Linked DNA regions of Homo sapiens. The protein of the gene in region 1 interacts with the protein of each later gene in a pairwise test. Each region holds a gene or a part of one and is shown on either strand. Other genes may lie near its edges. The genes, in order: BRAP, EFHC1, NUMA1 and CCDC30.

Evidence for each region.
Region 2: the proteins of BRAP (region 1) and EFHC1 interact in binary tests that used the Homo sapiens proteins (3 or more experiments, as listed by UniProt).
Region 3: the proteins of BRAP (region 1) and NUMA1 interact in a two-hybrid assay, tested with the Homo sapiens proteins (2 studies listed by BioGRID and IntAct).
Region 4: the proteins of BRAP (region 1) and CCDC30 interact in a two-hybrid assay, tested with the Homo sapiens proteins (one study listed by BioGRID and IntAct).

The regions. Positions count from the first base shown.
Region 1 is NC_000012.12:111,675,923-111,682,956, forward strand, and holds part of BRAP (BRCA1-associated protein), read right to left. Parts: intron 5,914-7,034; coding exon 5,715-5,913; intron 3,419-5,714; coding exon 3,229-3,418; intron 1-3,228. UniProt on the Homo sapiens protein: Negatively regulates MAP kinase activation by limiting the formation of Raf/MEK complexes probably by inactivation of the KSR1 scaffold protein.
Region 2 is NC_000006.12:52,493,322-52,497,712, reverse strand, and holds the end of EFHC1 (EF-hand domain-containing protein 1), read right to left. Parts: 3' UTR 515-4,391; downstream 1-514. UniProt on the Homo sapiens protein: Microtubule inner protein (MIP) part of the dynein-decorated doublet microtubules (DMTs) in cilia axoneme, which is required for motile cilia beating.
Region 3 is NC_000011.10:72,014,543-72,021,576, forward strand, and holds part of NUMA1 (nuclear mitotic apparatus protein 1), read right to left. Parts: intron 6,750-7,034; coding exon 6,662-6,749; intron 6,378-6,661; exon of another isoform or gene 5,784-6,377; intron 5,076-5,783; coding exon 4,952-5,075; intron 4,468-4,951; exon of another isoform or gene 4,439-4,467; coding exon 4,281-4,438; intron 3,972-4,280; coding exon 3,854-3,971; intron 3,759-3,853; coding exon 3,641-3,758; exon of another isoform or gene 3,286-3,640; coding exon 3,145-3,285; exon of another isoform or gene 2,817-3,144; intron 2,346-2,816; exon of another isoform or gene 1,989-2,345; coding exon 1,866-1,988; exon of another isoform or gene 1,719-1,865; coding exon 1-1,718. UniProt on the Homo sapiens protein: Microtubule (MT)-binding protein that plays a role in the formation and maintenance of the spindle poles and the alignement and the segregation of chromosomes during mitotic cell division.
Region 4 is NC_000001.11:42,466,286-42,473,319, reverse strand, and holds part of CCDC30 (coiled-coil domain-containing protein 30), read right to left. Parts: intron 199-7,034; coding exon of another isoform or gene 76-198; exon of another isoform or gene 1-75.

The DNA.
Region 1 (7,034 bases):
AATTGAACTTCCTTCTGCTTTTCCTATGTCCTGAAGAACTGTAAATTCTCTACCCAAAGACCAAGTTTCCTAAGGGTCACACTACAAATTGGTAAGCACACCCCCCCTTTTTTTTTGATCTTTTAAAAAAAATTTTTAAGAAACAGGATCTTGCCATGTTGCCCAGGCTGGTCTTGAACCCCTGGCCTTAAGCAATACTCCTGTCTTGGCCTCCCAAGGTGTTGGGATTACAGACATGAGCCACCACACCTGGCCTCACAACTCTTTCAGCTAAAGCTAAGGCCAACAGAAATTCAAAAATTACCAAAGATAAAGAGAAGGCTTATAAGTCCTTATTTAAAAATCTGTGGTGAGGAAAAGAATAAAAACATAGTTAGGTGCCCAGGCTATGGAGTCAGGCTGCCTAGGTTTGAACCCTAACTCTGACACCTACTAGCTGTTTGGCTGCAGGCAAGTGACTTATCTGTGCCTGTTTCCTCAACTGTAAAATACATGGCATTTTTTTTTTTGAGACAGAGTCTCGCTCTGTTGCCCAGGCTGGAGTACAGTGGTGTGATCTTGACTCACTGCAACCTCCACATCCCAGGTTCAATAGTTTCTCCTGCCTCAGCCTTTCAAGTGGCTGAGATTACAGGCGTGCGCCACCACATCCAGCTAAGTTTTATATTTTTAGTAGACATAAGCTTTTACCATGTTGGCCAGGCTGGTCTCAAACCACTGCCCTCAAGTGTTCCGCCCACCTTGGTCTCTCCCAAAGTGCTGGGATTAAAGGCATGAGGCACTGCACCTGGCCAACATGGCATCGTTGAGAGGATTCAAGGAGACAATGCATGGAAAGCACTTGGCACAGGGTCCGGTCTCTAGTAAGTGCTTCAGAGTTGGTAGCTACTGAGCCTATTATTCTCACTACAGCCGATATTAGTTTAACTTCCAGTCTTACACCAAGAGGGTATTATTAGGTATTAGAAAATCCCTGTTAGGATGATAGGGATTAGCCCCTAAGACCCAGAGTTAGCAATAAATAATACAACTCATGATACCAAGATAAAGGGTTCTAGCCCCATGGGGAAGAGCATGCAGCAACCTGTTTCGCAGTCTCAGAAAAACATGTCAACTTGAGCAACCTTCACTTGATCAAAAGACACAAGGGGAAGGATAGTGCAGATGTACAAGGAAAATTCATTCACAGTAAATATCCACAGTACTACCTGCACATTATGAAGGGCAGTACTTGTTATAGGGAACTGTGTGGGTTTATTAAACAGGTGACTGTGGTGGATTTATACGACTTCAGACTATTTCAAAAGCCTGAGTGCTCTTCAACATTTTTTTCCCAATCTATTTCTGGGTCTTTTCCTTTGTTACTTGCTTATTGCCCTAGTTGTTAAGTAGAAACTGTAACAATACTGCTGTCATAGAATGTCTCACAAACAACCGCCTCCCTTCCCCACACCTTCATCCCACTCCTACTAGAAGAGGAACGCGTCCCTGGAATTAAAAGTGAGGGTGCCACACTCTTGCTTGTCATTTATGTCTAGCTATGTAACCTTGGGCAAACCATGTATCTCCCTCTGCAGTCACCCTCCTCATCTGTAAAACAAAGATAACAACACAGTTTCCGCAAGGGATTGTAGTGAGGATTAAATGAGACAAAGTGTATTGAACACTTAGCACAGTGAGTGATACAGAAGCCATCGATAAACGTTGGATATTATCATCATTATCCTTATTATTACATGTGCTACCAGACTGAAATGGCTTAAGGCACGATTTTCCCATGGTTTGCAAAGCTCCTTGGCACCCTTGGAAGGCTTTCTGATGGACAGTGAAAGGAGCTATTCAAGTGCTTTTCTGTTCTTAATGTCAACTTGTAAACTTTAAATCCAAAGGATAATTGAAACCTTTTAAATGTCTCCCTAAATGATGGGGTACTTTGTAAACAGAAAACATAATAACTGTGTACTCTCTTGCAGACAGAACTCCACACTAAAGCTTCTCTCTGGAGATCACAGAACAGGTACACTCTTCCCCCACTAAAAAGAGAATGAGGCCGGGTGCAGTCGCTCACGCCTGTAATCCCAGCACTTTGGGAGGCTGGGGCGGGCAGATCACCTGAGGTCCAGAGTTTGAGACCAGCCTGACCAACATGGAGAAACTCCGCCTCTACTGAAAATACAAAATTAGCCAGGCATGGTGGTGCATGCCTATAATCCCAGCTACTCCGGAGGCTGAGGCAGAATGGCTTGAACCCAGGAGGTGGAGGTTGCTGTGAGCTGAGATCGTGCCATTGCACTCCAGCCTGGGCAACAAGAGTGAAACTCCGTCTCAAAAAAAAAAAAAAAAAAAATGAAAGAAGTGGGGGTAATGGAAAAATAATAAGATGGTGTTAACTTCAAAAAGTCTGGGAACCACCGCTTTTCTGGAATAGTTACCGCTTGTTTAAAAAAACAAACAGGCCGGGCATGATGGCTCACGCCTGTAATCCTAGCACTTTGGGAGACTGAGGCGGGTGGATCACAAGGTCAGGAGTTCGAGACCAGCCTGGCCAACATAGTGAAACTCTGTCTGCACTAAAAATACAAAAATTAGCCAGGCATGGTGGTGCATGCCTGTAGTCCCAGCTACTCAGGAGGTTGAGGCAGGAAAATCGCTTGAACCCGGGAGGCGGAGGTTGCAGTGAGCCGATACCACACCACTGCACTCCAGCCTGGGCGACAGAGCGAGAATTCGTCTCAAAAAGAAACAAACAAAAAAACACACTAGATTTTTTTTTTTTTTTTTTTTGAGACGGAGTCTCACTCTTGCCACCCAGGCTGGAGTGCAGTGGTGTGATGTCAGCTTTCTGCAACCTCTGCCTCCTTGCAAAACCCTAAACTTCATACTCAATCTGATCTATAAAAAATCATGGGCATGAGGCCAGGTGCAGTGGCTCAGAGCATCTGTAATCCTAGCACTTTGGGAGGCCAAGGCAGGAGGATTGCTTGAGGCCAAGAGTAGCCTGGAAAACACAGCAAGATCTCATCTCTACCGAAAAAAAAAAAAGTGTATACGTTATAATTGTATTTCTGCTAATGAATTTAGAAATACATCTAGAATTACAATTATATCTTAGAAGACATCTCAAGAATCTTAAGTGCAAAATGTTGTAAATCACACACAGCTATCATACAGTTTGAATACCACAGTTTCTGTGGCAAAGAGATTTTTAATAAATTTAATAACTTTTACCTGTGCACGAAACTTTATCAGCACCATATATTGGTTGGGAGTAGAGTCTCTGATAATTTTCATTTGTTCAATTACTTCGTTAAATGGGGCAACAAACTTCATAAGGTCATGACTGGTCATTGCAGCAGGGACTGTGAGAATACACAGCATGGCACTGCGCCGCACATCTTCTTTTAAGGAGGTCATCTTACTAACAAAAAAAAAATTAGAGTGTCTTGAATAGATGAGGTATGGTTAGTTTAAACAATACTAGACAACTTTTATGTCCAAGAAAACAGGAAAAAATAAAAATTGTAATATTTCATTAATGAACTGTTCTATATTATACCCCCCATTGGACTTTTTAATCTTCAGTTCAACATTTATTACGGTTATAAATCTGCATTCGGTAAATTTGCAGTGTTTTACTCTCATCAATGTTTGAATAATAATCTGTCACTGGTGGCCAGGCACAGTAGCTCATGCTCGTAATCCCAGCACTTTGGCAGGCCGAGGCGGGTGGATCACGAGGTCAGGAGATCGAGACCATCCTGGCTAACACGGTGAAACCCCATCTCTACTAAAAATACAAAAAAAATTAGCCGGGCATGGTGGCAGGTGCTTGTAGTCCCAGCTACTTGGGAGGCTGAGGCAGGAGAATGGTGTGAACCTGGGAGGCAGAGCTTGCAGTGAGCCAATATCGCGCCATTGCACTCCAGCCTGGGCCACAGAGCAAGACTCCATCTCAAAAAAAAAAAAAAAAAAAAAAATCTGTCACTGGTTAACTTAAAAGCACAACTCTGGCTATGGACCTCTCTTAAAAGGCCTAAAAAAACAGCTCTAAATATACGAGAGAATTCTGTCTTTTTTTTTTTCAGAGTCTTGCTGCATGGTCTCGGCTCACTGCAACCTCTGACTCCTGGGTTCAAGCAATTCTCCTGCTCAGCCTCCCAAGTAGCTGGGATTACAGACGCGTGCCACCACGCCGGGCTAATTTTTGTATTTTTAGTAGAGATGGGGTTTCACTATGTTGGCCAGGCTGGTTTCGAACTCCTGACCTCGTGATCCCCCGCCTCGGCCTCCCAAAGTACTGGGATTACAGGCGTGAGCCACCACGCCCGGCAAGAGAGAATTCTAAACCATGAGGATGTAACTGAGGATTACAGGAAGTGTTACCAAGTTGAGATGGCTGGAATAGAGAGGAAAGAAAATCCTCCCACAATGCAATTTGTTTTTTGAAATGCTGCAAACTCACTTGACAGCTGTGATCCAGAATGGCTACCTGTGCCGGGTGCAGTGACTCACACCTGTAATCCCAACACTTTGGGAGGCTGAGGTGGGCTGATCACTTGAGGTTAGGAGTTCGAGACCAGCCTAGCCAACATGATGAAACCCCATCTCTGCCAAAAAAAAAAAAAAAATTAACTGGGCGTGGTGGTGTGCACCTGTGGTCCCAGCTACTCTGAGGCAGGAGAATTGCTTGAACCCGGGAGGGGAGGTTGCAGTGAGCCAGGATTGCACCACTGCACTCCAGCCTGAGTTATGGAGTGAGACCCTGTCTCAAAAAAAAACAAAACAAAAAACAAAACAAAAAACAAAACAAAAAACAAAATGGCTACCTGAATAGTCACTGTTTTCCCAGTAGAGATCTGGCAAATGAGTTAGCACAAGAACAGCCTTAAGGTATCAGCTACCATTACCCAAGAAGGTAGTGGCTGGGCTTGTGGATTATCTAGCCAAATGCTTCCTTTCCTTGGGGCTCTAGCAAGCTTTGTTTGAACCACAGAAAATGGTAAAAAAGAGGTAATAAAATTGTAATGAGTTAACTGACTTCTTAGCAGCCTCTTCAGTAAAGATTTGGTGGGGACATGAGACTACAAAGATGCTGTGGATCATTTTCTTTGTCCTTTCAATTCCCCATCACCTTCCATGCCTATCTGCTAAGAAAACATTTTCCTGGCAGGGCGCAGTGGCTCACGCCTGTAATCCCAGCACTTTGGGAGGCTGAGGCGGGCGGATAACCTGAGGTCGGAGTTCAAGACCAGCCTGGCCAACAGGGTGAAACCCCATCTCTACTAAAAATACAAAAAATTAGCTAGGTGTGGTGGTGGGCACCTGTAATCCCAGCTACTTGGGAGGCTGAGGAAGGAGAATCACTTGAACTCAGGAGGCAGAAGATGCAGTGATCTGAGATCGCGCCATTGCACTCCAGCCTGGGCAACGAGACCGAAACTCCATTTCAAAAAAAAAAAAAGAAAACATTTTTCCCACATATTCTCTTAAGTGTATCCACAAGCATTTCTTTTATAAGGAAAAGCTTTGACCCAATCCACAAGATTAATCAAATGTAAAACATCTGAGAATTCTCTAACATACAACAGACAAAAGTATTATTATTTTGAAGCTTAAAATACCCACTTTCCTTCAGGACAAGAGACTATGCTAAAGCAAAGCAAAAAAAAAAAAAAAAAAATTGACTAACCCCCAAGAAAAGAGGGTTTTCTTACTTTGTCTTATATAGGTGCATAATACCATGAACTATTTCAACTGATGGATTTCCACTGAAGAATGAAATCTGGTCTGGAAGCTGTTTGGACGGAGAATCTGGGGCAGCGTTTATGCATTCCTTACTGTGATCTTTACTTCTTTGCGCAGTGGGGGAGGCTTCTGAAGACTTCCTTTCTTCCACTGTAGTTTTTAGTTCATCTTTCACCAGTTAAAAAATAGCAGATTATAAATGGATAGGACATATGCTGAAGGATTTGAACTAGATTAAAATTTCAAGTCAGAGGAATAAACTTTGATAGAGTAATTACAATGTAATGCATTAACAGCTATTATTTGTAGAATAGCTGAGTTTATGAGGGCATCATACTTTAAAGCTCTCTTTGCTCCATAAAAATCTCATTAACACCCTCAGAAACTTAAGGATGGCTATTACATTTGGCAATACCATAATGCAAGCAGGTATCTTCTATCACGAAATCCTAACTGGGACAAACATTCAGGGCTACTAAGGTGGAAATCCAAACCTACCAGTTCTGACCACCTCCATGTTGGAGATGTAGTACTATCTACACATCCACTTCCGCAGATAAAATGAGCTGGCTGGCCGGGTGCAGTGGCTCATGCCTGTAATCCCAGCACTTTGGGAGGTCAAGAGGTTGAGACCATCCTGGCTCACATGGTGAAACCCTGTCTCTACCAAAAATACAAAAATTAGCTGGGTGTAGTAGCGTGCACCTGTAGTCCCAGCTACTTGGGAGGCTGAGAGAGGAAGGAGAATTGCTTGAAACCAGGAGGTGGAGTTGCAGTAAGCCGAGATCATGCCACTGCACTCCCACCTGGGGACAAAGTGAGACTGTCTCAAAAAAAAAAAAAAAAAAAAAGAAAAGAAAGAAAGAAAAAATGAGCTGGCAGAGCAGGGGAAGGCACGACATGTTTATTTGGACACATTAATGATCTGCCACTGAACTAGGTGGTAAGAAATTCTCCCTGGTAGCCGGGTGTGGTGGCTCACACCTGTAATTCCAGCACTTTGGGAGGCCGAGGCAGGTGGATCACTTGAGACCAGGAGTATGAGACCAGCCTGGCTAACATGGAGAAACCTTGTCTCTACTGAAAATACAAAAATTACCCAGGCGTGGTAGAGGGCATCTGTAATCCCAGCTACTTGGGAGGCTGAGGCAGGAAGACTGCTTCAGCCCAGGAGGCTGAGGTTGTAATGACCCGACATTGCACCACTGCACTCTAGCCTGGGCAACAGAGACCCTGCCTCAAAAAAAAAAGTCCCCCCCGTCACTGAACTGAATTGTCAACTCCAACTG
Region 2 (4,391 bases), on another chromosome or scaffold:
CCTGAGCAACTGATAATGCAAATGTGGACAAAGTGTCTGTTTTCTACTCTAGCCTGTTCATATGGACCAAATTTCAACAAGGAACTCAAGGAAAATTTGTACCTGCCGTATTTATGCTTTCATGTAAAAAAGGGTTGGGGGGAGGGGTGTCTTTTTGCTTTTGGTGAACTTTTTTTCAAAATCATTTTTCCACTGTTTCTGTCTGGTTTTAAAACAAATTACAGTTTTGTATGGATTTTTTAAATGTACATTTTGGAACAAATGATCAAATATTTTCTGAAATAACAATAAAAGGCAGAAAATTATCAGAATTGTCTCATAATTATTTCCTTGACGTGCTTTTATACAGTGATGCTTTTAACGTGGATGTTTACGTTTGCTTAAAGGAGTTTGCAATGAATTTTAGCCCTCATGTCTATTATTTTTCACTATATTAGTCATTTCTTATATATTTTGACCCGTATTTGTCCATTGTGATATGAATTAGGGAATTAAGGATGGAGAGTCAGTTATGTCAAGTGCTGGATAGCAATAAGCATCATTTTTATTTGACTCTTTAATAGTAAAGTGGAAAAGAGGTTTTCTTAACATGGGGTTTGTGGGTAGGAAGCTCCAGAAACAAGCACATCATCCTTGATGCCTACTATACTATGATGTTATTTAGCTTGGAGGAAATGGGGTTTCGTTTGTGTAAAGGCCAACAAATATGTTGGTGCTGACTAGAAGACATCCAAGTATTAGTAATAGTGGGGATTGCTGGTGTCACTTACATGGCTGCTGTTGGCTGTAGCTGCTTGCTGTGTTTACCAGAACCATCTTTCTTTGGAAAAAGATCTCAAAAGATGAGTGCAGTTACAGGTGGCAGTTAGTCAAGGACACCCATGGGGTGTGAGAAAGAGGAAATGTTTGCTTGAGGTGAAGGTGAGTGGTTCTGATGCATGGCAAGCTTCATTGTAGAGTTGGGTCCTGCTCTGCCATGAGAAGCTAGGTGAACTCAAGCAGTTAACCCTTCCGAGTCTTTTTGTGCATCTGTGTCAAAAGGGTTTCATGTTTTGTGGGGAGTCATGGTGAGAGATTTAGAGATACTGAATGCTAAGTTCATGGTACATATAAAGCACTCATATTGGCTTTTTAAAATGAACTTATGTGCCAGCAGGATACTCAGGAGTCACTTAACCAAGTGGATTCTCTGGACAACATTTAGAGACGTCTTCTCTACCTATGTGTCCCAAATACCCTCAAAGCCTATAGATATGGATTTGATACACCTTAATTGGATGGTATTTTCAAGGCCCCCTGATGGTGCAGACAAGGTACAGGCCCAGGTTTCTGAGTAGTGGCTAACTCACAGCCCATCTTTACCCGCAAGGCAGATTTTTATTAGTCCCAAAGCCGTAAGCACTATAAGCAGTCTTAGTCAAATGCTTCAGTTAGACCTGATAGCTTCAGCTACCAGTGCTAATCTTAATAATTCTCATTCTCTCTTTGTGTGTGTGTGTGTGTGGGTGTGTGTGTGTATTAGAATCTTTCAACTCCCTGGTGGCCAGTTTGAAGTGATGATCATTTCTGCTTCCTACAATATTGCTTGCTACAGGGTAATGCTCAGCTCCCTTCCACCACCTGAACCTGACACTCCAGATGCATGCCAGCTATGACTGTAGCATAAGGTAATTAGTGACATCTAATGGCTGCACTGCCATTCAGGATTTTAGTAGAAAAAGTGATTTGCTCTGACGTTTGTGGCTCCTATACTTGCTGCTTTGTATAAACAGGTGAGCAGCGAGTGTTTGGACACCACAGAAATGGCCTGCTGGCTTTGGTCTTTCATGAAATCTCTTTTATACCTTGTGTTGGTGCTGTCAGATCTCAGCTTCTCAGTCTTAAGTAAACTTAAAAGGAGATGCAAGGCAAGAAGTGGACAGCAAACTTAAGGAGTGTATGTGGACAGTGCCAACTTTATTGAAGACAGTTCCCTCTGAGACTACAGGCCTAGCTACTCAGAAGGCTGAGGCAGGAGGATTGCATGAGCCCAGGAGTTTGAGGCTGCAGTGAGCTATGGTCACACCACCGCATTCCAGTCTGGCAACAGAGTAAGACCCTGTCTCTAAAAAACAAACACAAAAACAAAACAAAACAGCCAAAAGCAGGCTAGAGGATGCTAAATGAGACTTTCCTAAATCTCCATTTTGGCTGAGACCCAAAGCTGAGGACAAAAATTGGCAAATATATCCATATGTTGCAGATTTGCTGCCGATCCATGAATGATTTGTTAAGGAGTAGCCCAAAGCTCCTCTACCACAGGAGGCAAGAGTGATGGAGAAAATATCAGAAAGTGCAAGCTTCTTGAAAGGGGCTGGAGTGCCTTGGGTCTGCAAGCTAAGTGAGGGTATACTTTAAAAGACTCAGGGTTTGACATGTGTCTGTCCCCTGGAGTTTGGAGAGCATAAGATTTGGGGTACCTGGTTCTCCCCTGAAACAGTCTAAAGGAAAGGGATTGAGCTGCCTAATTACACAGCCAAGAGAGCCATCTGGGTGAGAACATGGCGAGAGTGCACACCCTGGAAGGTGTGTCAGCCTGAAAGGGCCTCCTGGGAAGATCAGAAGGAGCCTTGGAGACCATACCATTAGAGCCGGGGTGATCAGGTACAGACTGGGTCCCGTCCATCTGAGAGTGGTGCACTGGGCAGTTTCCGGTTGGAAAGAGTTCTAAGAACTCACCAAAACGGGGCTCTGAGCAAAGGACATGGAATCAACCTAGGTGCCAATCAATGGTGGATTAGATTTTTTAAATGAAGTATATCTACACCATGGAATACTACGCAGCCATAAAAAATGAAATCATGTATTCTGCAGCAACATGGATGCAGCTGGAGGCCATTATCCTAAAGTGAATTGATGCAGGAATAGGAAACCAAATATTGCATGTTCTTACTTCTAAGTGGGAGCTAAACATTGAATACACATAGACATAATGATGGGAACAATAGACACTGGGGACTACCAGAGTGGGAAGGGAAGGAGGGGGTATGTGTGGAAAAACTACTTACTGGGCACTATGCTCACTACCTGGGTGCAATATACTCATGTAACAAACCTGCACATGTACCCCCTGAATCCAAAAAGAGAGAAAAGGTGCTCTGGGAGAAAGAGTCAGCCTTTCGGCACATGTCACTCAGACCTGGCCCCACATTACGACATTACTAGCCACAGAAATAAGACTTTGCCCTTTTTCTCTGGTTTCTACCCGCTTAACCTTTCCCAGAGCCTACATGGGCTAGAAACAGCAGCATGGCTGAATAGGAACAAAGGGAGCAGAAGACAGAAAGAAGGGAGTAAGAAGAAACCACTATCATCACCCCAGTATACACACACTCTTTACCACAGGCTTCTAAGCCTGGGGGAAGGACTGAGCTGGGCCAAGTAGGATAGAGCTTGGTAATTTTTAAGCTGAAAAAACTTCTAAAATACAGATAGTCCCCAACTTTCAATGGTCCAACTTATTTGCCTACTTTACAATGGGCTTATCAGGGTTATTAAATGTGTTTTCAACTTGTGATATTTTTTACTTACGTGAGTTTATTGAGACATAGCCCCATAAGTAGAGGAGCATCTGTACTTGAAAGAGATACTGTTTTAAATAGTTATGAGCGACTGAGGGTAAAACAAAACAAAACATGGGTTATTCCCAAGATAATAACCTGGAACAGAAAAGGAATCAACATAATACATTCACAGCCCTTTCAATAAGCTGGTTACAAGTGGCTGAGCTCGTTAGGGAAGGAAACACCAAGGGAAGTTCCCTAGAAGTTCTGAGAGGGCAAAGCAGTCTGAATTCTGTGTAACTCTATCCTCATTCATACCACATTTTGGGTGGCTTCGGGGAATTTGAGATAGCATGTTTAAAGATGAACTTAGTGGCTGACTTCAACCAAAGAGAAGCCCTGTTTGTAAAAAGCCAGTCAGAGCTCACCAGAGAATAGTAACTGCAACTAGTCTTTCCTTCCTCTCTCAAGGCCAGGCTCTCTAAAAGCAGCATTTTTCTAACCTTTTTTTTTTTGAGATGGAGTCTTGCTCTGTCACCCAGGCTGGATGGAGTGCAGTGGCGTGGTCTTGGCTCACTGCAACCTCTGCCTCCAGGGTTCAAGTGATTCTCCCATTTAAGCCTCCCGAGTGGCTGGGACTACAGGCACACGCCACCACACCTGGCTAATTTTTCTATTTTTAGTAGAGATGTGTGCACATATATGTATATACATAATATATATACACATATACATACTATATGTATACATATAAGCGTGTGTGTGTATGAATGTGTACATATAAAATATATATATATATATATATGTAGAGAGAGAGAAAGAGAGAGTTATAAGAAATTGCTCACACAA
Region 3 (7,034 bases), on another chromosome or scaffold:
GCGGCCCGCAGCCGTTCCAGCTCATTGCCCATCTGCTCTGCCTCCCGCTCCATAGCCTGCAGCGCTGCCTGTGTGCTGCAGAACTGGCGTCCCTGTTGCTCTTCCAGCCACTCGGGCTGTCTGTCTCCTGCCCTCGCAGGCTCCTTGACTAACTCCCGGGAGGCTGTTTCCTGCTGCTCACCTGCCTTGCGCACCAAGGTCTCCAAGCGGGCCACCTCTTTGCTGGTGGCAGCCATCTTTTCCTGCAGAGTGGAGAGGTCATCTGCAAGCTTCTGGGCCCTGACTTCCTTCTCTTGGACCTGCTGGAGTGCTCTGGCCAGGTTGGCATGGAGCTCAGCTAGTTCGTTCTGCTGCCGGCTTATCTGGAGCTCGCTGTGGGATTCTATGCCTGCCACCTTCTCCTTTGCCTCCTGCAGCTCCTGGCGGGCCTTCTCACATTCCTCCTTCAAAGTCATCAGCTGTTCCTGGAACATGGCGCCATACTGTGCCTCCTCTTGCTGGCTATCCTCATACCGCTCACGCCAGGCAGCTACTTCTTTGACGAGCTGCTCACACTCACTCTCAGCTGTGTGCTGGGCAGCCATGGCCTCTGCCAGCTCCCGCCGCAGGACTTCAGTCTCAGCCTGATGGGCCTCCCCAAGCTGCTGTAATCGAGCCTCCAGCCCCTTGCGCCCAGCCCTCTCTTCTTCCAGCTCCTTTCGTTCCCGCTTATGCTGCTCCACCAGGCTTCGGGTCTCTGCCTTCAGCTCAGAGATACAACGCTGCTGCTCTTCCAGGGCATCTGCAGCCCTGCGCTTCTCCTCTTCAAGGCTGCCCTTGGTGACCTTCAAGGACTCTTTGAGGGCCTGGAGCTGCTCCTGGAGCTGGTCCTTCTCCTGGGCCACCCTTTCTTTCTCAGTTGCTTTTTGCTGCTCAGACCGCAGCTGCAACTCTAGCTCTGCAACCTGGGCCTGGGCCTCATGCTGTTCCTGGCGGGCTGTCTCAACACAGGCCTGGAGTTCCTCCACCTTCCGGCTCAGCTCTGCCTTCTCCCGCTGGGCCTGTGTCACTGAGGTCTGGGCACTGTCCCGGGCTTCATTAGCCACCTGAAGTTGCTGCTGCAGAATCTCCAGCTTGGCAGCCTTCTCCTTCTCCAGTGCCTCCAGCTGCTTGAGAGCCGCATCCCGCTCCCTTAAGGAGGCCTCTCGCTCCTCTGCAGCAGTGGCCAGTTGCTGGGCATGGTCCTGCCTAGTTGCCTCCTGCTTCTCCGCTACCTCCTTCAACTGCTGCTCCTTCTGCTTCAGGCTACTGCTTAGCTGCTCCACCTGGTGGCGGAGGCCCTGGGAGGCCTGTTCTTGCTGTTGGAGGGTCTGTGCTAGCTGGGCCTGCTTCTCTTTGGCCTGCTGCTTCAGGCCAGCCAGTTCTTGATCCTGTTGCTGGATGGTGGCATTGAGTGTGGTGAGCTCAGAGGTCAGAGAGGCCACCTGGGCAGTCAACCGGGCCCCATGAGCCTGGGAGGCCTGCTCCAGCTCTTCCTTGGCCTGGCTGAGGTTGGAGATGGAGCTCTGCAGGTCAGTGATCAGGCTAGACAGCTGCTGCTTTTCTTCTTCGAAGTGGCCCCGCTCAGCAAGCAGCTTGGCTTCCTGCTGGCCTCGCTCAGTCTCCAGCATCTCTACCCTGGCTTGGAGCTGTGTGTTGTTTGCAGCAAGAGTGGCTGCCTCTTGCTTCAAGGTTTCCAGCTGGTGGTATAAAGAGACAAACTGGGATCAGCATGACTCCTCAGTCATCAAGACTCCTCTGGAAATGGAGGAACACCAGGAACCCAAATGTACTGAATGTGAGTCCACACCAACCAGCAGCACACAGGTCTTTCTGTGCATTCCTACCTGCAAGACATCACCCAGCACCTCGCCCTTCTCCTGGGGTGGGTTATCCTGCAGCTGGGACAAGTGTTCTTCCAGCTGTGAAAGTTTTCCCTGAAGGATTTCGTTCTTCTCTTCAAGGCATTTCTGGGAGTAAATGAGACCCATGTGAACAGAGAGGGGGAACAGGCACCAGATTACCACACAAGCCCTCATAAACATCAGCAAACATGGGGCCCATCATCTTGTTACCAAGATCTCCTTTTGCCCTGGCCTAGAAAAAAGCAGAAACCATGGAACTGGGAGCATGAGGGACCTGATTCTCTAGACCTAGTTCTAAGGCACAATAAAGTCATAATGTAACCTGCTTACTACTTCCCCAAGGCTGCTGAGTTTACTTCAAATTTCCTTACCGTATACCCTTCCTCAGATAAGTCTTGAGTCCTAGATTATCCAAATCACCACCAGCTGCCCACCATCCTCTGGGCAGCAATACCACTGGCAGCAGCTGCAGCAACCCCCAGTCCCAAACCCACTTCTTCACCACTGTTCACTAAGCACCTACAATAGGCTATGCTGGGTTCATCCCTAATTTTTTTTTTTTTTTTTTTTTTTTTGAGACAGAGTCTCGCTCTATCGCCTAGGCTGGAGTGCAGTGGCGAGATCTTGGCTTACTGCAACCTCCACCTCCCAGATTCGAGAGCTTCTTCTGTCTCAGCCTCCCGAGTAGCTGGGACTACAGGCATGCATCACCACACCCAGCTTATGTGGGAGGCAGCTACTACCATTCCTCTTACAGAGCAAGAACCTGAAGCAGATGCTAAGTGCCTTGATCAAGGGCTACATGGTTATTAGTAAGTGGCCAAATTGGGTTCTTACCAATAGTAACAATCACAACTGGTTCACTGAGAGCTTACTTTACACTACACGATGTGTGAAGTGCTTTACATACGTTTTCTCATAATAGGTGATGAGGCAGCTACTCGTTACTACTCCCATTTTAGGGAAAGGATGCTTAGAAAAACAGACTGATTAACTTGTCCAAGATCCACATCTTGTGAACAGCAGAGATAGGATTGAAAGGTGTACTATAAAGTGAGGGCATTGACTGGGGAAAAAAAAAATAAGTTAAAAAAAAAAGGTGTACTAGACTGAAGCCCACAATCTTTCAATTACAGCACACTATTGAACCTTGAAGAGAAAGCAACTTAATACCCAAAGGCCCAGAAGAGCACAGTGGTAAACTGGACTCAGCTTTGCACATGTGGTCAAGACTGTGGCTGTGACCCCAGCAGAGGGTTACCTTGTCCTGCAGGGCTGCGCTGAGCTCCTTCTCCAGCTGGGCCTGCTTCTCTAGCCACTCCTGAGTGGCCTTGCTGTGCTCCTCCGTCAGCTCATTGAGGGCATCCTGTAGCTGCTGCAGATGACTGGCAAACTCCCGCAGCTGAGACGGGCAAGTGAGAATCCCCATCACCCAGAGTCAACGCTGACCCCACCACTGCTGTCTGCTCCCAGAACCCCAGGGGCTGGATGCCTCCAATTATCCTGCCAACCCTCTACAAACCAATCACAGCCATCACACCTCTAATTCAGAACTACAAATCAACATTTAGGGTCACAGCCCAGTACCCGGGAAGCCGCCAATTATGGGATAAGGAAAGGGGCAAAATATGCAGGTCTCTGGAGAGACTGAAGCATAAGACAGGTGCTGGGACATTCTTCTCAACCCTCTCTTGGGGAGCCTTCCAGACCACCTCAGCCCTGAGGGGCCTCCATGCACACACCACCTTAACACCCACCTTAAAGGAAAGGTCTCCATTCTCCTCCGAAAGCTGGTTGATTTTGCGATCCATCTGGCTCTTCTCTGTCTTCAGGTCCTGGCACTGCTTCAGGGTTTCATGCAGCCGCATGGTAAGGCTGCGAGGGAGGGAAGCAGTGAGAAGAGAGTATGGGTTCCTGGCTGGGTGAGGGGAGGGGCTGGGGCCTGGGAAGGAATGCAGGGAGAGCTGTACCTCTCATTCTTGTCACGCAGCTCCTCAAGCTCCTTGGGCTCCAGTGGGCTGGCCGCCTGCTTCTCATTCAGCAGGGCTAGGCGGTCAATGCGCTGCTGCATCATGGCTATCTGTGCATCTGCCCAGAGTGGAGGGAGGAGGAGAGGAGAATCAGAACTATGTGCATGAGCGGAACTATGTGCACAGAACTATGTGCACAAGGGGAAGGGAGGAGACGGCATAGGGAAGAGGAGGAATATGGTATCCAATCTAAGGGAAAGAGAAGATGGGGACAAAGACAGAACCTAGCTTCCAGGAGGTCAGCCTGACCACAGGCCCAGGGCTGAGCTCTCAGCTCCAGGGGCCAGCAGAGGGGACAACATGGGAGGCCAGGGGACATCCTTCCGGCAAGTCTATTCACACATCTGCCAGTGTGCCAGCCACCTACCCTTCTCGGTGAGGAGCTTGCGGTTCTCAGCTAGCTCCAGCTCCAGCTCATCCCTATTACTTCTCTCATCAGCAAGCTGCTTCTTCAGCCGTCTCATCTGGAACTGTGGGGTCTGCAGGATATCACCCATGGGAGAAGCTGGAGAACCTGAGAGAAAGCTGAGGAGGGAGAAGGCCCATATGCATTGGTAAGCGCCTAAGATCTGAAGCAATCAGCAACAGGCAGCAGTAAGGGAGCGGGGTCTATGGAAGTGCGCACTAGCAGCTGGGAGGCCTGTGCACCTGGGTTGTTTGCAGTGCTACCTCAAGCCTCATGACATGATCTTGGGAAAACTTTTCTTCTCACTGCCTTAATTTCTTTGTCAGAAAAAAAAAAAGTGATATATTCTCCTTGGCTCTGCAGAGATGTGCTAAGAGAAGAGACTTCATTGTAGTCTCCGAGGAAGAAGGGTATTCCATAAACAGGGAACAGCTTTTGAGGGAGGCCTTCTGCACATGACAAATCCCAACCACTTCCCCCAGTTAATACTGGGTGAGGTGAGGAGATCCCAGATCTACCGGATACTCTAAGCACTCCCAGAGGCTGGTTAACATCTTAACTCTAGAAGTTAGGAATGTGAGGAATGGATGGATGCTGAGGCCCTATCCCAGGAGGAGAGGCCCAGAACATACTTGTTCCCACTGGAAGAGGAGGCAACCTTCTGTAGCTCTAGGAAGCGAATCTCCCTCTTGGCCTGGTGGCTAGGTGGGGAGAGCTCTTCAGGGAATGTGCTAGAACAGGTAGAAGGCACAGGAGCTGGGGGTAAGAAATAGACAAAATAAATCAACAAAGGTTAGTAAGAAGGTGTAAAGATTTGCACCTTTATGCAATTTGAGAACTCGCCTTAGTGGGAGTATATCCATGGATACTTATATGTAAACTACCAAGGAAGGCACTGGGCAGAACCTGAAACCTGGTGCCTGGGTTATCCAGAGTTCCGTGTCTCTAACCAAAATGAAGTGCAGGGCTTCCATTTCTACAGAGCATCATTACTCAGAGCACAGTGGAGTGACGGTGTCCTCTGGCTCAGAAACTGCACCAAGTGCTCAAGCTTTTTCCTCGAGTCCACACTGCAGAGACGGCTTGGGGAGCCCTGAGCAGGATCTCCTTGCAGCCCCCAACAACCTTTCCTATCAGAGCCATTGGCCACCATTTGGAATTCATCCCCCCTGAAGCCTTGCACCTCCAAAATGCCCTCCTCCTCAAAACCCTTCTCTTTCCGTGGTTTCCGTGACCCCTTTTGTAGGACTCTCCTACCTCTAATCACCCATTCTTAAGTCTCCTCATCTGCTCCTCCCTCCTCTACCCACCCTCTAAGCTCCCAGAGATCTGATGGGGCCTCTTGGCTCTGCCCATAGTGCCCACGGCTTCAGTGGCCATCCAATGCTGACTTGCAAACCTATCTTCTGGTCCAGAGCCTGCTCCTGAATTCTGGACTCACATTTCTAACATCTCCACCTGAAGGTCTCATGAGGAACCTGAATACAAGGAACATCAAACTCAACGGCTAGAACTCGCCTAGACCTCCTTCTTACATTCCTATCATCCACCAGCTGACCTCTTCATCAGAAGACCAGCAGAACGATCACTCTTTCTACTGTAGTACCAGCCGAGGCCATTGATATATTCCGTACTTAGATTCCTTATCATTATTTCCTGGTTTATGTATCTGCCTTTCCACCTAGAACATGCACTACATGACGGGAAAAACATTTTTTAAAAGACTGTGGGCCGGGCGCAGTGGCTCATGCCTGTATTCCTAACACTTTGGGAGGCCGAGGCAGGTGGATCACCTGATGTCAGGAGTTCGAGACCAGCCTAATCAACATGGTGAAACCCCGTCTCTACAAAAAATACAAAAATTAGCCAGGTGTGGTGGCATGCGCCTGTAATCCCAGCTACTCGGGAGGCTAAGCAGGAGAATTGCTTGAACACGGGAAGTGGAGATTGCAGTGAGCTGAGATCGCACCACTACACTCCAGCCTGGGCGACAGAGAGAGACTCTGTCTCAAAAAAAAATAAAAATAAAAATAAAAAGACTGTATTCTCAGCTTCTAAGCCTAGAGTAATGATTGTTTAAAAAATAAAAAACAAAAGTAGGTATGATCACTTGTAAATATCCTACATAACTGCTGCCAGGCAGCAAGGAGGAGCTCCATAGGAACTGAGATGATACAACATGGCCCAGAAATCGACCTACTCCATTACACACACTTTTCCTGAGCATCAACTCTGCCTTGTGTTGGGGACAGAAACAAACCCCCACCATACTTGACAACTCAGGATCCTAGTATTCCCCATTTCAGAGATGAGGGGATTCTCAGGAGTGTGTACCTACTTACCTTTCTGTAGGAAGTTCTCTAGGTCCTCATTAAGGTTTAGCCCGTCCTCATGGTCCAGCACAAATTTAAGAATGACAGCCAACTCAGCCTGGGCCACAGGGAGAAAAAGAGCATCACTTAGGTGTTAGGCCTCTGAAGGGATGGCTGCCAGGAGCTCCACCCTGGCAGTGCCAGTCCCCGGCTCCCTCATGCCCTAGGAGCCTGCTGGATCCCATTCTCCCTCTCAGAGCTGAGGTCCTATGACCCAGCCAACAACATTCAACTAGAGATATGTTCACCCCACTTGTCCCCTTCCCTCCCACCTCCCCTCAAGATGTACCGAAGTCAGAGTTCCTGACTGACTTAACTCCTGACCACAAGTGAAGTGACTGTT
Region 4 (7,034 bases), on another chromosome or scaffold:
TGCTATTAGTTCTCACTTCTTTTGTTTCACCCATGTGCTTCACTATAAGCTCTTCTACATCTGTGGTAGCAGTCCTCAGCCTGTCTTCACTGTGCTGGCTGGAATAAGCACCAAACAGAGTTGTTCTTCTGTAGTAGCAAGGGGATTGATTTCTTCTTTTTCAAGATGGTGAAGTATGTCTTCTAACTGAACTTTTCCCTTGATAGAAGAAATAAGCATATGTATATGAACACACACACACACACAACTGAGGATGCAAGATATCTATGTGGGTGCCACCTTAGTCTCCTTATTAGAGTACTAGTCTTTAGGGTACTAGCAATAGAAAGCTAGTAAGCTACCTGAACCTTCATCACACTTATGTATGTGTATGTATATATATCTTGGAAAATCCAAGATATTTCTAAAGAACAAAATATAGCTGGCAATACACATACAAAGCTGCTATGTGAGGAAAACTGAAAGCAGGAATAAAGAAGTCTATGTATATATGACTAGAGTCAGACTCTCTACAATGTATATTTTACTTTTCCTGTTGTTATCTAGTTATGAGCACTTAAATGAAACAGCTGGTAATACCGAAAAATGTAAGCTTTGAACAACTGTGTATCTTCTAAAATAACAAATGACATGATATACTTAATGAAAATTATGTACAATGGAAAAAAAAAAAGCTTTTCTGTCTGTTCTAAAGTTTGCAACTTTTATCTGAAAAGTCTCCCAAAGGGCTCTTGTTTCTTTTTTAAAGTCCAAAGAAGTCTTTGTTCCTTTTATTGCATATTTAGAAATAAAAGGATTCCTCTGGAAGCTAGAGAGGCCCCTAATTCTATACTATCCAGGATTTATTTTACTCACAGAATATGTCTTATAATTTATGTTGACTTCTCATTAATTCAGTTCTTTTCTGCAACTTCTTGGTCTAAGCCTGCTATCAATATCAATTTTTTTAGGTTGCAAGTAATCATGACATAACAGTTTGCAGTATGACAGTATATGAAAGATAAATATCTGCTGATCGATGAAGTGATATCTGTGTTACTAGAGCCACTAACTATTTTTTTTTCTTTGAGATGGAGTCTACCTCTGTTGCCCAGGCTGGAGTGCAGTGGTGTGATCTCAGCTCACTGTACCTCTGCCTCCTGGGTTCAAGTGATTCTCCTGCCTCAGCCTCCTGAGTAGCTGGGATTACAGGTGTGTGCCACCACACCTGGCTAATTTTTGTATTTTTAGTAGAGACGAGGTTTCACCATGTTGGTCAGGCTCGTCTCGAACTCCTGACCTCAAGTGATTAAAACCACTAACTATTAATAGGACTTGCTGTTCTAATCAAATACAACTTTTAACCAAGTTAATCTGACCCAAATTGCAGTGACAGACATAATTGTTATTGTACTTCAGTCCACATAAATATACTATTTTGCTTTTTAAAAGCAAAACCATATTTTTATTATTTTTCTCCTTGATTGCTAAGTTTTCTAGAGTCTTACCATTTCCACATCAACAGTATTTATAGATGATAAATGGTTTTAATTATCAGCTGATACTCATACTGATGAAAAACACCCAAGTCTGAATCCTGCACCTCTGTAGGTCCTCTTCATGACATATAACTAAAAATTTTCTTCTGTTCCCCCGACCTCCTTCACCTGGTCCCCACTCATATCTTCCCCCTTCTCCCTACAAGGTCTTTGAGCATCATACAGTTATTTGTGGTTTTAGTCCTGGGTAGCAGAGAGCCCAAGATACTAAGAATACATAGCATCCTATGAGGACTATTTGGCAATATGGAAAAATGCTAAGAAATATGTGATAATGCTAAGAGAAAAAGCACAATGCAAAAGTATTATTATAACTATGTAAACACCAGACACACAAAGAAAAGACTGGAAGCAAATACCTCAAAGTGCTAAAAGCAGTTGTGATAAACTGATGAGGTAATTAGAAAATAAATGCTTAAATTATTATAAGTCCTGTACTGTGGGTTGCTTGCCCAACAGCATAATCCCCATGCTGTAGGGGTGGAGTAGGGGAGTCTAAGGTTGGAGGATGTTAAAAGGAAAAGGGGATCAGGATATTGGAAAATACCTTTGGATCTGATCCTTGCTGATCAGTAGGACGGTACAGGCTTCAGGTCAATACTCAAGTGCACAAATCACCCAAGCTCCTTCACTTGACCATTCTCCCAAAGCCAGTGATCTTTATGCACATTTTATTTAGCTGCCCATCCTCATGGCTACACCTGAGTCCTTATCAACAGCCTGAGCTAATGTTGAAACCCTGCCATCCTAAACTCCATGTGTCTCCCTCTAACACCTTCTATGCTTCTTCCCCCTTTTTCTTAATTGTTGTAAATATACATAACTTAAAATTTACCATTTTAACCATTTTTAATAAAATTCCATGGGATGAAGTACAATCACAATGTTGTCTAACCATCACCACAATCATTTCCAGAAATTTTTCATTATGCCAAACAGAAACTCTATACCCATTAAACAATAACTTCTCATTCCCCTCACCCCCAGGCCCTGGGAATCTCTATTCTACTTTCTGTCTCTATAAACCTGCCTATTTTATACAACTCATAGAAATGGAATCATACAATATTTGTCCTTTTGTATTGGCTTATTTCATGCAGCATAATGTCTTCAAGATTCATCCATGTTGTATCGCTAATCATAATTTCATTTAAGATTGAATAATATTCCATTGTATGTACATAGCACATTTTATTTATACATTCACCTGTTGATGGACATTGGAGTTGTTTCCACCTTTCAACTATTGTGAATGATGCTGCTATGAACACTGGTGTAAAAGTATTTGAATCCCTGTTTTCAATTCTTTGGGGTATATACGTAGGAGTGGAATTGTTAGATATATAATTCTATGTTTAACTTTTTTTTTGAGGAACTGTCCTACTGTCTTCTACTGCAGCTGCACCATTTTACGTTCCTACCAGCAATGCAGGTCTTAATATCTTCACATCCTTGTCAACACTTACTTTGGGTTACTTTAAAAAAAAAATAGCCATCCTAATGGGTGTGAAGCAGTTGCTCTCTTAAACTAAAAGAATTCTACAATTACAGTGAGACCTCCAATCTCTGGACCATTACATCCTCTCTCAAACTACCAGATACTCTTTGGCTTCACTTGTTTGCCCCTCAAGCCTAAACCCAACTGTTGATCATTTCAATCCTTCACCAACATCCCCAGTTATCTTACCCCTTTGTCCCACCTTCCTTGCAAATCTCAGCCCTGTAAAAGTTCATGCATTTGACTATTATCCACCTATTTTAGGTTGCTGAGTGCCGATAGAGAACAAAATCAAACAGGCATGCAAATCTGAACCATTACAAATTCATGGCCTCTGGTCTGAGCCAAGCTTCTCAACCGCTGGGTCATTTATGAGTTGCTAGTTTCTGTTACTATTTCACTCAGCAACTATTCAAAACTTTTACCTCTCCCATCAAACTGAATATCTCATCTCTCCCCTCACTCTTGGCAAATGACCTTGTCTCCCAGAGAACTAGTAAAACAAAGGTCATCATAAAACAGTCAGTTGCTTCTCCTCATCAACATACCAACCTTCATCTTTACCAATCTTGTCCTCTTTCCCTTCTCAGTGGAAGAGCTTCCCATCCTCCTGATCAAGGTTAATCCCTTTACCTGTATTCTAGGCCCCATCCCATACTGCTTCCTTAGGGAAGCATTTTCTTTTCTGTATGTTCCTTATCTCCTTTTCTACTGTTCTCTTGTCCTCAGCTCAAGACATCTCTGGTCTTAAAGATACAAGAAATAACCTTCCTTTAGCCCCACCATATACCTCTCTAGCTACTGTCCTGTTTTGGACAATTTGTCTCCCACACTCCTATACTGTGGCTTCTGTGCTTGGCTTCCACACTCTTACACTTGCTGCATTTTGCCTTCTGCTCTTACCATTGTACTCAAATTATCAGTCAACAATGAACTCAAAATGCCATATCCATAGCTCACTACAGTTTCAAACTCCTGCGCTCTAGTGATCCTCCTGACTCAGCCTCATGAGGAGCTAGGACTACAGAAATGTGCCAACATGCCCATCTTATTTTTAAAATTATTTTTTTAGAGACGAGGGTCTTATATGTTGCCCAGGCTGGAATTGAACACCGGGGCTCAAGTGATCCTCCCATTTCAGCCTCTCAAAGTGCTGGGATTACAGGCGTGAGCCACTGTGTCTGGCCCTGTTTTTGTTTGTTTTAACATATGATCTCTTTGCTGTACGTCTTCACTCCTTCCCTGAAAGTTTTTTTTTTTTTAATTCTGTTCTGTGATGTCACTTTCTCCTGTTTTGACTCCTATGTCTCTAGCCTTTCCTTCTCAGTATGCTTCCTGGGTTCCTCCTCTTCCATCCCTTCAAATGCTGCCATTTCCAGGAAAACCCTGCCTTTAGCTCTCTGCCCTTCTCACTACCATGTGATTAATAGCTTGGGCACAGGAGTCTAATATACCTTGGCTCAAACCTTGGCTTCGCTACTTTGTAATTGTGTGACTTACACAAGTCAGGTAACTTCTTTAAATTTTTATTCTGTCTGTAGAATAAATGTAATAGTAATGCCTACCTCACTCTGTTGTTTGAAAGATTAAATAAGAATCTCTCTCTGCTATGCTCCAGATCAATCTAGAAGAAGTGGCAAGAAACAGAAACACATTGAAGTTGGAACAAATACAGGTGAGTGTGGCAGAGACTGCTGGTGTCCTTTAATATTTACTATTCCCTTCTTCCACAGAAATAAGATATTTAGTGTTTTGACTGATCACAAGACTGACTTCCTTACTGATAGATACAGCCAGGTGACCAAGTTCTGACCAATGGGTGTAAATGGAATTATGTGGTGCTTCCAGAAACTGTCCTTAAGGAATGTGATGCCCCCTTTCTTGCTCCTTACTCCTTTCTACTAGCTGGAATTCAGACAAGATAGCTGAAGCTTGAGCAGCTATCCTGGGCACCATAAGCTGGAAACCACATGCCATGGATGCTATAATATCAGGAGAGAAGAAATCTGGGTCTCTGACCATTTCAAGGTGCTGCCCCACCAGTTATAGATTGTTTTATTTTTGACTTTTATGTGGGAGGAATACATTTCTTTCTTTTTCAACGCATTATTATTTTGGGCTTTCTGTCCCTCACACAACCAGCTAATCCCAACTACTATATGAGGGTTATTGAGTGGATGAGGTACAAGGACATATGCTGGAAACTAAATGTGGCTACACAGGAATTGGATACAGAACTACACAGCCATTAACAGTCTCTCCTGACCCATGAGGTCTTCTGTCTCTGAGCTTCCCTGCGAGTTTGCTCCTCTTGCTTCTCTACAGAGAAAAACTTCCTCTGCTTGCTCATCAGCAAGGCTGAAAAGAACTATTCAAGTCCTTAGCGAATGTGACTTTTTAGATTAAGCCATTTCTATCTTTGTATCTCTTAGTTCAAATTTTTGAAAGAGACAATTGTTTGTTGCTCACCAAATAGGCTGTGTCCCCCTCTCCAAAGTTACCTGTATTTTCCCCATTCAGTCAGTTGTACATGGAATGGGTTGGAAGTAGAGGTACAAATATGGCCTCTGAGGGCCTACTCTTTAAGCAAGATTTGGCAGACAGATCCAAGTTCCAGAGAAGAGGCTATAAGCTAAGAGGGCAATATAAAATGAGTCTACTGTTTAAGACCAATGCGTGTCCAGTTTTCTAGTGAACAACTCAGCTTGAACAACCCATTCATCTTTCCCTCCTCCTTCTCTATTTCATAGTTAAAATCACTGTCAACATAGTTTCCCAAGCCAGAAACCCAGGAGTCATCCTTGATCCTCCTTCCTATTCATTCTACTCTGGTATGCAACCAGTCACTGAATTTGCAGTACTTCTTTCATCATTTTCTAATTCATCCTCTCCATGTCTAGGGTTACTGCCTTAGTTTAGGCTTGCCTACTATTTGTTCAATTTAGTATAATAGCAACCTTAACTGATGTTCCTGCTGCCAGGCTGGCCCTCATCCAATCCATTCTCAGCAAAACTCCAGACTGATCCTCCTGAATGCAAATCACTTGCTGCTTAACCTTCTTGTTGCTTTCATGTAGAGTTCAAACCCTTTAGCTTGGGACCAGATATTCTTCACAATCTGGTTCCTCCCAGTCTCTCTAGCCTTGTCTTCTGCCGCACCTTGACATTAGCCATTCATGTCAGTATACTTATTGGTCCCTATCATGCTGCTTATATTTCCACAAATTTTGACATTCAGGTCACTCTACCTGGAATGGTGCTATGAGATCCCCAAACAAACATTTTCCCAGTGGATTTATTGAGACCTGATGATTAACTTTTAAATTCTAGTAAACTAGATCTTGAAGTAATAAAACTAAATTATAAATGCTCTGACATCTAAACTGTACCTAAAATTGCCCACACAACAAAGTACATAAGAATACTATTCTTGGCCGGGCGCAGAGGCTCATGCCTGTAATCCCAGCACTTTGGGAGGCCGAGGCAGATGGATCACCTGAGGTCAGGAGTTCAAGACTGGCCTGGCCAACATGGGGAAACCTCATCTCTACTAAAAATACAAAAATTAGCCGGGCATGGTGGCGGGTGCCTGTAATCCCAGCTACCCAGGAGGCTGAGGCAGGAGAATCGCTGGAACCCGGGAGGCAGAGGCTGCAGTGAGCCGAGATCTCAACACTGCACTCCAGCCTGGGCGACAGAGCAAGGCTCCATCTCAAAAAAAAAAAACAAAACAAAACAACAACAACAAAAAAACTATTCTGTCCAAAGTAGATACTAAGTAAATGCTCATTAAATCTCTTAAAAATCCAATCTCTGGAAAGAAGTGCATCCTGAAGTAGGTTTAGGCCTCCAAAAACTTCTAGATGTAAAGAATAAGGTGGTAAAGCAAACTGAGACAAAGAATTTTAAACGAGAAGAGGACAAGGAGAATGGGTGCAGTCTCCTTGTTTTTTCTCCTGGTAGGTACTCTCCAACTGCATTGCAGGGGCCAGGACCCT